2 linked regions of the Homo sapiens genome follow. The protein of the gene in region 1 interacts with the protein of each later gene in a pairwise test. Each region holds a gene or a part of one and is shown on either strand. Other genes may lie near its edges.

What was found.
Region 2: the proteins of SLC27A6 (region 1) and TNFRSF10C interact in a two-hybrid assay, tested with the Homo sapiens proteins (one large-scale study listed by BioGRID).

The regions. Positions count from the first base shown.
Region 1 is NC_000005.10:128,963,847-128,968,433, forward strand, and holds the start of SLC27A6 (long-chain fatty acid transport protein 6), read left to right. Parts: upstream 1-1,641; 5' UTR 1,642-2,291; coding exon 2,292-2,772; intron 2,773-4,587. UniProt on the Homo sapiens protein: Mediates the import of long-chain fatty acids (LCFA) into the cell by facilitating their transport at the plasma membrane.
Region 2 is NC_000008.11:23,112,602-23,115,432, forward strand, and holds part of TNFRSF10C (tumor necrosis factor receptor superfamily member 10C precursor), read left to right. Parts: intron 1-2,055; coding exon 2,056-2,169; intron 2,170-2,831. UniProt on the Homo sapiens protein: Receptor for the cytotoxic ligand TRAIL. Lacks a cytoplasmic death domain and hence is not capable of inducing apoptosis. May protect cells against TRAIL mediated apoptosis by competing with TRAIL-R1 and R2 for binding to the ligand.

The sequences.
Region 1 (4,587 bases):
CCACTGGAGAAGGACAGATTTTACTCATTAAAACTACAAAAGTCTGAGACCAACTGCTCCATATTCTTTTGTGTTCGTTAAATGTTGTTATTTGGAGGTGACTTAATTAGACTAAAGCTAGAAGAGAAAACAATAGAATGTCAAAGATGCTTTTCAAGTTGTAAACTAATGTTTTAAGTTATAAACTACTTGATACTATTTTCTTAATTAAAAAGATATTTCTGAATCGAAAAGATCAAAGCTTCTGAGTAAATTTAGAAAGCATTTTTTTGTCATTTACAGAAAAGGGCTTTAAGAGCCTATGTTCCTTTGGCTTTAAGAGCTCTTCACTGTGACTTCAAAGTAATCATTTTCAGATTAATAAACTGGAGCTCGTCTTTGGAATTATCAGTTTTTCTTTTATTACAGAATCTGAGGTTAGCCAGAATCCATCTGCAGAACATGAGGCAGAAGGGAGAAACACCTAACAAGGTGAGGCCTTCCTTAACTATTTTAACACAAGCAATTAACCATTTATACTCACTTAAAAGCAGACAGCTGGGATGATGGTGTCTGCTAAAAAAAAAAAGTGTAATGAAATGTTCTTTAGTTTTTTGATCTTTAGTAAAATTTCATCTTCGTATAAAATTTTATTAACCATTCCACTAACTTGTTACTTCTCCACTCCACCTCCCCACTCCCTTTAGAATCCTTAGTTTGAAGACATAATTCTTTAAATGATCTGTCTCAGGGAGGGGGGATCTTGTTACTTTTAAGGACTGCAAATAGCATTATAAACTTTGTTTTTATTTTTAAATACGAATATCGACTGAAGCTCTCAAATCAATCAATATTGTTGCCAAATTTTGTAAAACGCACTGTCTTAGCTCTCTAACGATAGAGTTCTAATATAAATGTAAAAACCAACCTATCAACATGTTTTCAAAAATACTTTTTGTAAAGAACAGTACAATTTTGTGGTGTCCAAATATTCCTTTCTTTCTTACAAAATATTATTGGATCTGTCCAGTTCATAAATATTCCTGCCCTCTCTTCCTCCCTCCCTGCCTCTCTCTCCCTGCAGTTTTTTTGATGTTTGTTCTTTTCTTTCCATTTTCTAGTTATTAATTGGTTCAATGGATGACCTTTGTGCGACACTGTTATACCTTATCAGCCTCGCCAGGGCCCCCGCGCCGCCCAATCCCAGCAACTCTGGTTCTCCTGTGACCCCAAGCCTTCCAGATCCCTGGGTTTCCCCCCACGGGACTGTCACATTCTTCCCCGCCGGAGACGCCAGTCGCGGGGCCTCCTCCCTGGGGTGTGAGCAGGTCGGCGCGCCACACTTCTCTAGGTGGCCGGACGCGCGCCCAGGGAGGAGCTGGCGGCGGGGCCCAGGCTGTTCCGGCTGCGGCACGCCAGGGGATGTGGTTAGCCCTGAGCCTGGAGGCCGAAGGTGGGCAGGCAACACTCCCACCATGTTTCGGAGGAGAATACACTAGGCTAGCCTAACGACACTCGGAGTGCGAGCTGCGGCTGGGGTAGGGGCACCCCTTTCCAGCGGGCGCGTGGGTCACCAAGGAGCAGTTCTCCGGGACCCGTTGCGTCAGAGGGACTGGGCGGGGCTGGGCGGGGCAGGACGGGGGCGGCGCTCAGGAACCCTGGAACCCGCTGGCCCTGAGGCCACGGACCGAGACGTGGTGCTGAGCCCCTGCGCGGTTTCTGGTGCGTAGAGACTGTAAATCGCTGCGCTTCTCAGTCATCATCATCCCAGCTTTTCCCGGCTCGAATTCAGCCTCCAACTCAAGCTCGCGGGAAAGACTACCTGAGAGGAGAAAAGCTTCTGTCCCTGGACCTTCTTCTGAGGGTGGTGAGGTTTGTTTAGGGTCGCAGAAGCAGGGAGGACTGACTCAGCCCTCACAGAGAAGAGGTCTGGAAAGTCCTGGGGAACTCGCAGGGCACGGGCCGCTGTCGCGGTTGGGAGGCGAGGGCGCAGCGCTGGGGTTGTAGATTCCAAGACCCCTGAGGGTGGCTGTGTTGGTTTCTCGCAGGAGTCGGAGGCTCCCTGCTTTCCAGCCGCCCAGTGACCCAAGCTTAATCTTCAGCACCACTTGGGGCGACCTTTTCGGTGCAAACCTACGATTCTGTTTCTCAGGATTCCTCCCCATCCCGCTTCGCCCCGGAAAAGCTGACAAGAACTTCAGGTGTAAGCCCTGAGTAGTGAGGATCTGCGGTCTCCGTGGAGAGCTGTGCCTGGAAGAGAAGGACGCTGGTGGGGGCTGAGATCAGAGCTGTCTTCTGGCCCAGTTGCCCCCATGCTTCTGTCATGGCTAACAGTTCTAGGGGCTGGAATGGTCGTCCTGCACTTCTTGCAGAAACTCCTGTTCCCTTACTTTTGGGATGACTTCTGGTTCGTGTTGAAGGTGGTGCTCATTATAATTCGGCTGAAGAAGTATGAAAAGAGAGGGGAGCTGGTGACTGTGCTGGATAAATTCTTGAGTCATGCCAAAAGACAACCTCGGAAACCTTTCATCATCTATGAGGGAGACATCTACACCTATCAGGATGTAGACAAAAGGAGCAGCAGAGTGGCCCATGTCTTCCTGAACCATTCCTCTCTGAAAAAGGGGGACACGGTGGCTCTGCTGATGAGCAATGAGCCGGACTTCGTTCACGTGTGGTTCGGCCTCGCCAAGCTGGGCTGCGTGGTGGCCTTTCTCAACACCAACATTCGCTCCAACTCCCTCCTGAATTGCATCCGCGCCTGTGGGCCCAGAGCCCTAGTGGTGGGCGCAGGTAGAGTATGGGGTGTGGTCTGCCTATACAGAATGGCAGCCCACCTGCTTTCATACCCTTTTTTTTTTCTTTAGGATAATTCGTAACTAATATTTTGGGTGAGTGAAGTGTGCATGTTAAGAGTACAAAATAGTTTTATGATTCTATGCTGGTTTAACAACTGTCTCCTCCCTTCAGGCACGTAGTTTCAGAAAACTTTTATGAAATCTCTGCTTCCTACCATTTTGAGACAGGGACAGTTTTACTGCTATTGGTTCCTTCAGTGAGTGCAAGAACACACAGAGAACTTGGTCACTTCTAAATTTTATCAGCTCTGACAAAATGGTGAATAGGAAAGTTATCTGACTTCATTGTGACACGTCTACCTACCTCTAATTGTACTTTATCAGGGATGACTACATTTGCAGAAGAGATATGTTTAAAGGAAGGTACCTGAATTCCTTTCTTCATGTCTGCTCTTATTTTATACTGTCTGCAAGCTAGGACTTGCCTAGCAAGGTTGCGCTCCCACCTGTGAGCCAGAACGTGGGCTCTTGGCAGACTCTAGGAGCCTTTCTGTTTCTTCTTCTTATCCTTCCATGCATCCTTTTCTTTTTTTGACTAAGTTCTACCCTTCCTCCTCCCCCTGCCTTGGAGTTAGGACATCTTAGGCTACACGTATTTTCACTGAACTGTAAAGAAAAGCCTGGGGTTTAGTGGCTAATTAGTAAAGAAGCTAGGAAGATGGGTTGCTTAATGAAATAGAAGTGAAATATGAAAAATGATACTTATTTGGTGTAATCTAAATGGTTTATGCAGAGTCTTCTTCAATGGGGAAGGAAGGTGCGGAAAGAGGAAGATCCATTGCAAGGACCATAATGAAAATATTTAAGTATTTTAGATTAATAGATACATACCAATACCTTGTATAAAGTTTTTAAACTCACAGAACAATATGGAAAAATATATTTATACCCTGGTGATCTCTAAGGTATAGAACTTTTCAAATAACCTTTATGATATAATATTTGTATATCAAACCAAAGTGAGTTAGGCAGTATATGGAAAATGGGCTAGCCCTTCAAGGCTATCACTGTTCCTAGTTCTTTTCAGTTCAACTTGTGGTCTGATAAAGTGGCAAATGTATACTTTTTCTTATTTATTATTATTTTTTATTATTATACTTTAAGTTCTAGAGTACATGTGCACAAAGTGCAGGTTTGTTATGTATGTATACATGTGCCATGTTAGTGTGCTGCACCCATTAACTCATCATTTACATTAGGTATTCCTCCTAATGCTATCCCTCCCCACTCCCCCCACCCCACGACAGGCCCTGGTGTGTGATGTTCCCCACCCTGTGTCCAAGTATTCTCATTTTTCAGTTCCCACCTATGAGTGAGAACATGTGGTGTTTGGTTTTCTGTCCTTGTGATAGTTTGCTCAGAATGATGGTTTCCAGCTTCATCCATGTCCCTACAAAGGACATGAACTCATCCTTTTTTATGGCTGCATGGTATTCCATGGTGCATATGTGCCTCATTTTCTTAATCAAGTCTATCATTGATGGACATTTGGGTTGGCTCCAAGTCTTTGCTATTGAGAAAAGTGCCGCAATAAACATACATGTGTGTGTGTCTTTATAGAGGCATGATTTAGAATCCTTTGGGTATATACCCGGTAATGGGATGGCTGGGTCAAATGGTATTTCTAGTTCTAGATCCTTGAGGAATCACCACACCGTCTTCCACAATGGTTGAACTAATTTACACTCCCACCAACAGTGTCAAAGTGTTCCTATTTCTCCACATCCTCTCCCGCACCTATTGTTTCCTG
Region 2 (2,831 bases), on another chromosome or scaffold:
CATAGTATCCTCCAGCTTCATCCATGCTGACACAAATGACAGAACTCCCTTCTTTTTAAAGGCTGAATAGTATTCCATTGTATCTATGTGTCACATTTTCTTTAACTTTTCATCCATCCATGGACACGTAGGTTGATTCCATGTCTTGACCATTGTAAATAATGCTCCAATGCATATGGGAGGGAAGATATCTCTTCAATATACTGACGTCATTTCCTTTGGATGTATACCCAATAGTGGGATTGCTAGATCATATAGTTGTTCTATTTTTTGTTTTTTGAGGAACCTCCATACTGTTTTCCATAATGGCTGTACTAATTTCCATTCCCACCAACAGTGTACCAGCATTCCTTTTTCTCCCCATCATCAACACTTGTTACCTTTTGTCTTTTTGGTAATAGCCATTCTTACAGGTGTGAAGTGATATTTGGCACTTGATGGTTAGTGATGCTGAGCATTTTTTTCATATACTTTTTGGCCACTTCTATGTCTCCTTTTGAGAAGTGTCTATTCAGGTCCCACGCCCATGTATCCATTTTACTTGGATTATTTGATTGTGTGCTATTGAGATGTTTGAGTTCCTGTGTATTTTGGATTTTAACCAAAATCTTGGATCTTTTGAATATTGACCCTCATTCTGTAGGTTGTCTCTTCACTCTGTTCATTGTTTCCTTTGTCATGCAGAACCTTTTTAGTGTAATGTAACCTCATTTGTCTGTTTTTCCTTTTGTTGCCTGTGCTTTTGGGGTCATAGTCAAGAAACCATTGCCCAGACCAACATCATGAAAATTTTCCCCTATGTATTCTTGTGGTAGTTTTACCATTTCAGATCTTATGTTTTAATCTTTAGTCCATTTTGAATTAATTTTTACATATGATGTGAGATAAAGGTCTTATTTCATTCTTCTGCATGTCAATACCTACTTTTCTCAACACCATTTATTGAAGAGCTGTCCTTTCCCCATTTTGTGTTCTTGGTATCTTTCTCACAATCAATCAACTGTAAATGCATTGATTTATACCTGGGTTCACTATTTTGTTCCATCAGTTTATTTACCATTGTTGTGCCATTACCATTCAGTTTTGATTACTATACTTTTGTAACACGTTTTAAAATCAGGTAGTACGATGCCTCCATCTTTGTTCTTTTGTTTGTTTTGCTTAAGATCACTTTGGCTATTTGAGGTCTTTTGTAGTTCCATACAAATCTGGGCGTGGTGGTGCGTCGCCTATAATCCCAGCTACTCGGGAGGCTGAGGCAGAAAAATCGCTTGAACCAGGGAGTTGGAGGTTGCAGTGAGCCGAGATTGTGCCACTGCACTCCAGCCAGGTGACAGAGCAAGACTCTGTCTCAAAAAAAAAAAAAAAGACACATGAATATACATAACAGTCAGGATGTCCTGATGGGAACCATGAAGAATAGTTAAGTGACAGGAGATAGACAAGGTTGGTGGGGCCTCTCGGGGATGGTGATTTGGGCTGATATTTAAAGTTGGACAGGGCCAGTCTTGCAGAGAGCCAGGAAGAGTGCTCTTGAGAAGGCCCTGAAGGAATGAGAACCCCAGGTTTCGGGGGCTTGGGGAGACTGAGCGAAGACAGGGGGCCACTGTGGTGAGTGGACAGCAAACAGGTCAGGTGGACCAGCATGGGCAGATCACATGTACAGTAGGTTGGATGTTATTTTGTGAGTGACGGCGTAAAAAAAGTAAAATATCTCAATGATGTGTATTGATTACATGTTGAAATGTAGTATTTCAGATATTTTAGGTTAAAACTATATTGTTAAAATTAATTTGGCCTCATTCTTTTTACTATTTTAATATGGCTCTCATAGAATTTGAATTTTGCATAGAATTTGAATTTTGTATTATATTTCTGTCAGCAGTGCCAGTCAAAGGTATGTAATAGATGCTGAATGGATGACAAGACCAAGCCTGGAAGAGTGGATTTCTCTGTCTCAATTCCAGTGAGGGCCAAAAAAGAAGTTTCCCCACCACTGTCAGCCTCTGGGAATTCTGTGGTGACTCATTCATTGGCTTTTCTCTTCCTTCCCAGGATCTCATAGATCAGAACATACTGGAGCCTGTAACCCGTGCACAGAGGGTGTGGATTACACCAACGCTTCCAACAATGAACCTTCTTGCTTCCCATGTACAGTTTGTAAATCAGGTACAGAATGTGTGGACCTCTTGTCCAGAGGTGGAGCGTGGGGCAATGAGGTGGGAGTTGTAGCCGATATGAGTCAGGGAACCAAGTTCCAGCCCAACCTGGTCTTCATCACCCTGTTCTATGATTATATATTTGACTGATTAAAAAAATAGAAAGAAATCTTTTCTATAATGCATGCCACCTGGCTGGGAAATCGTCTAAACTGTCAGCTGCAAGAGGGTGGGGGGATCATTAGAGCATAGAGAAGGCCTGGCCCAGTGGACAGGGCTAGGTTTCAGTAGTGGCACGGGTCTGCTCCAGGGCCAGGCTCTCTCCCCCAGGCTCTGTGCTCCTGGCAGGTGCTCGGCCTCACTCAGCCTTCAGGTTCTCAGGCCCCTTCCTCCTCCCCAGCAGGCCCAGGCTTTGGGGAAGTCCCCCAAGGCCTCCGTCTCCTTGCAGAGTCTCTCAGGTGATGCCCTTGCACCTCCCTTGCTACTGACCATGCCATCTAAACAATGCTTTTCCCCTAATCTGATGTAATAAATAATGAATTATGCTCCTTTTTATGACTCCTCTGAGTGCTGGTGACAGCTGAAGGGTGGGTGTCCTGTATGAGCCCTGAGTGTGCTGGTGCAGAAACTGGCCCTTAGAACTCCTTGGTGAACTTGGTTGAGCTGAGTGGG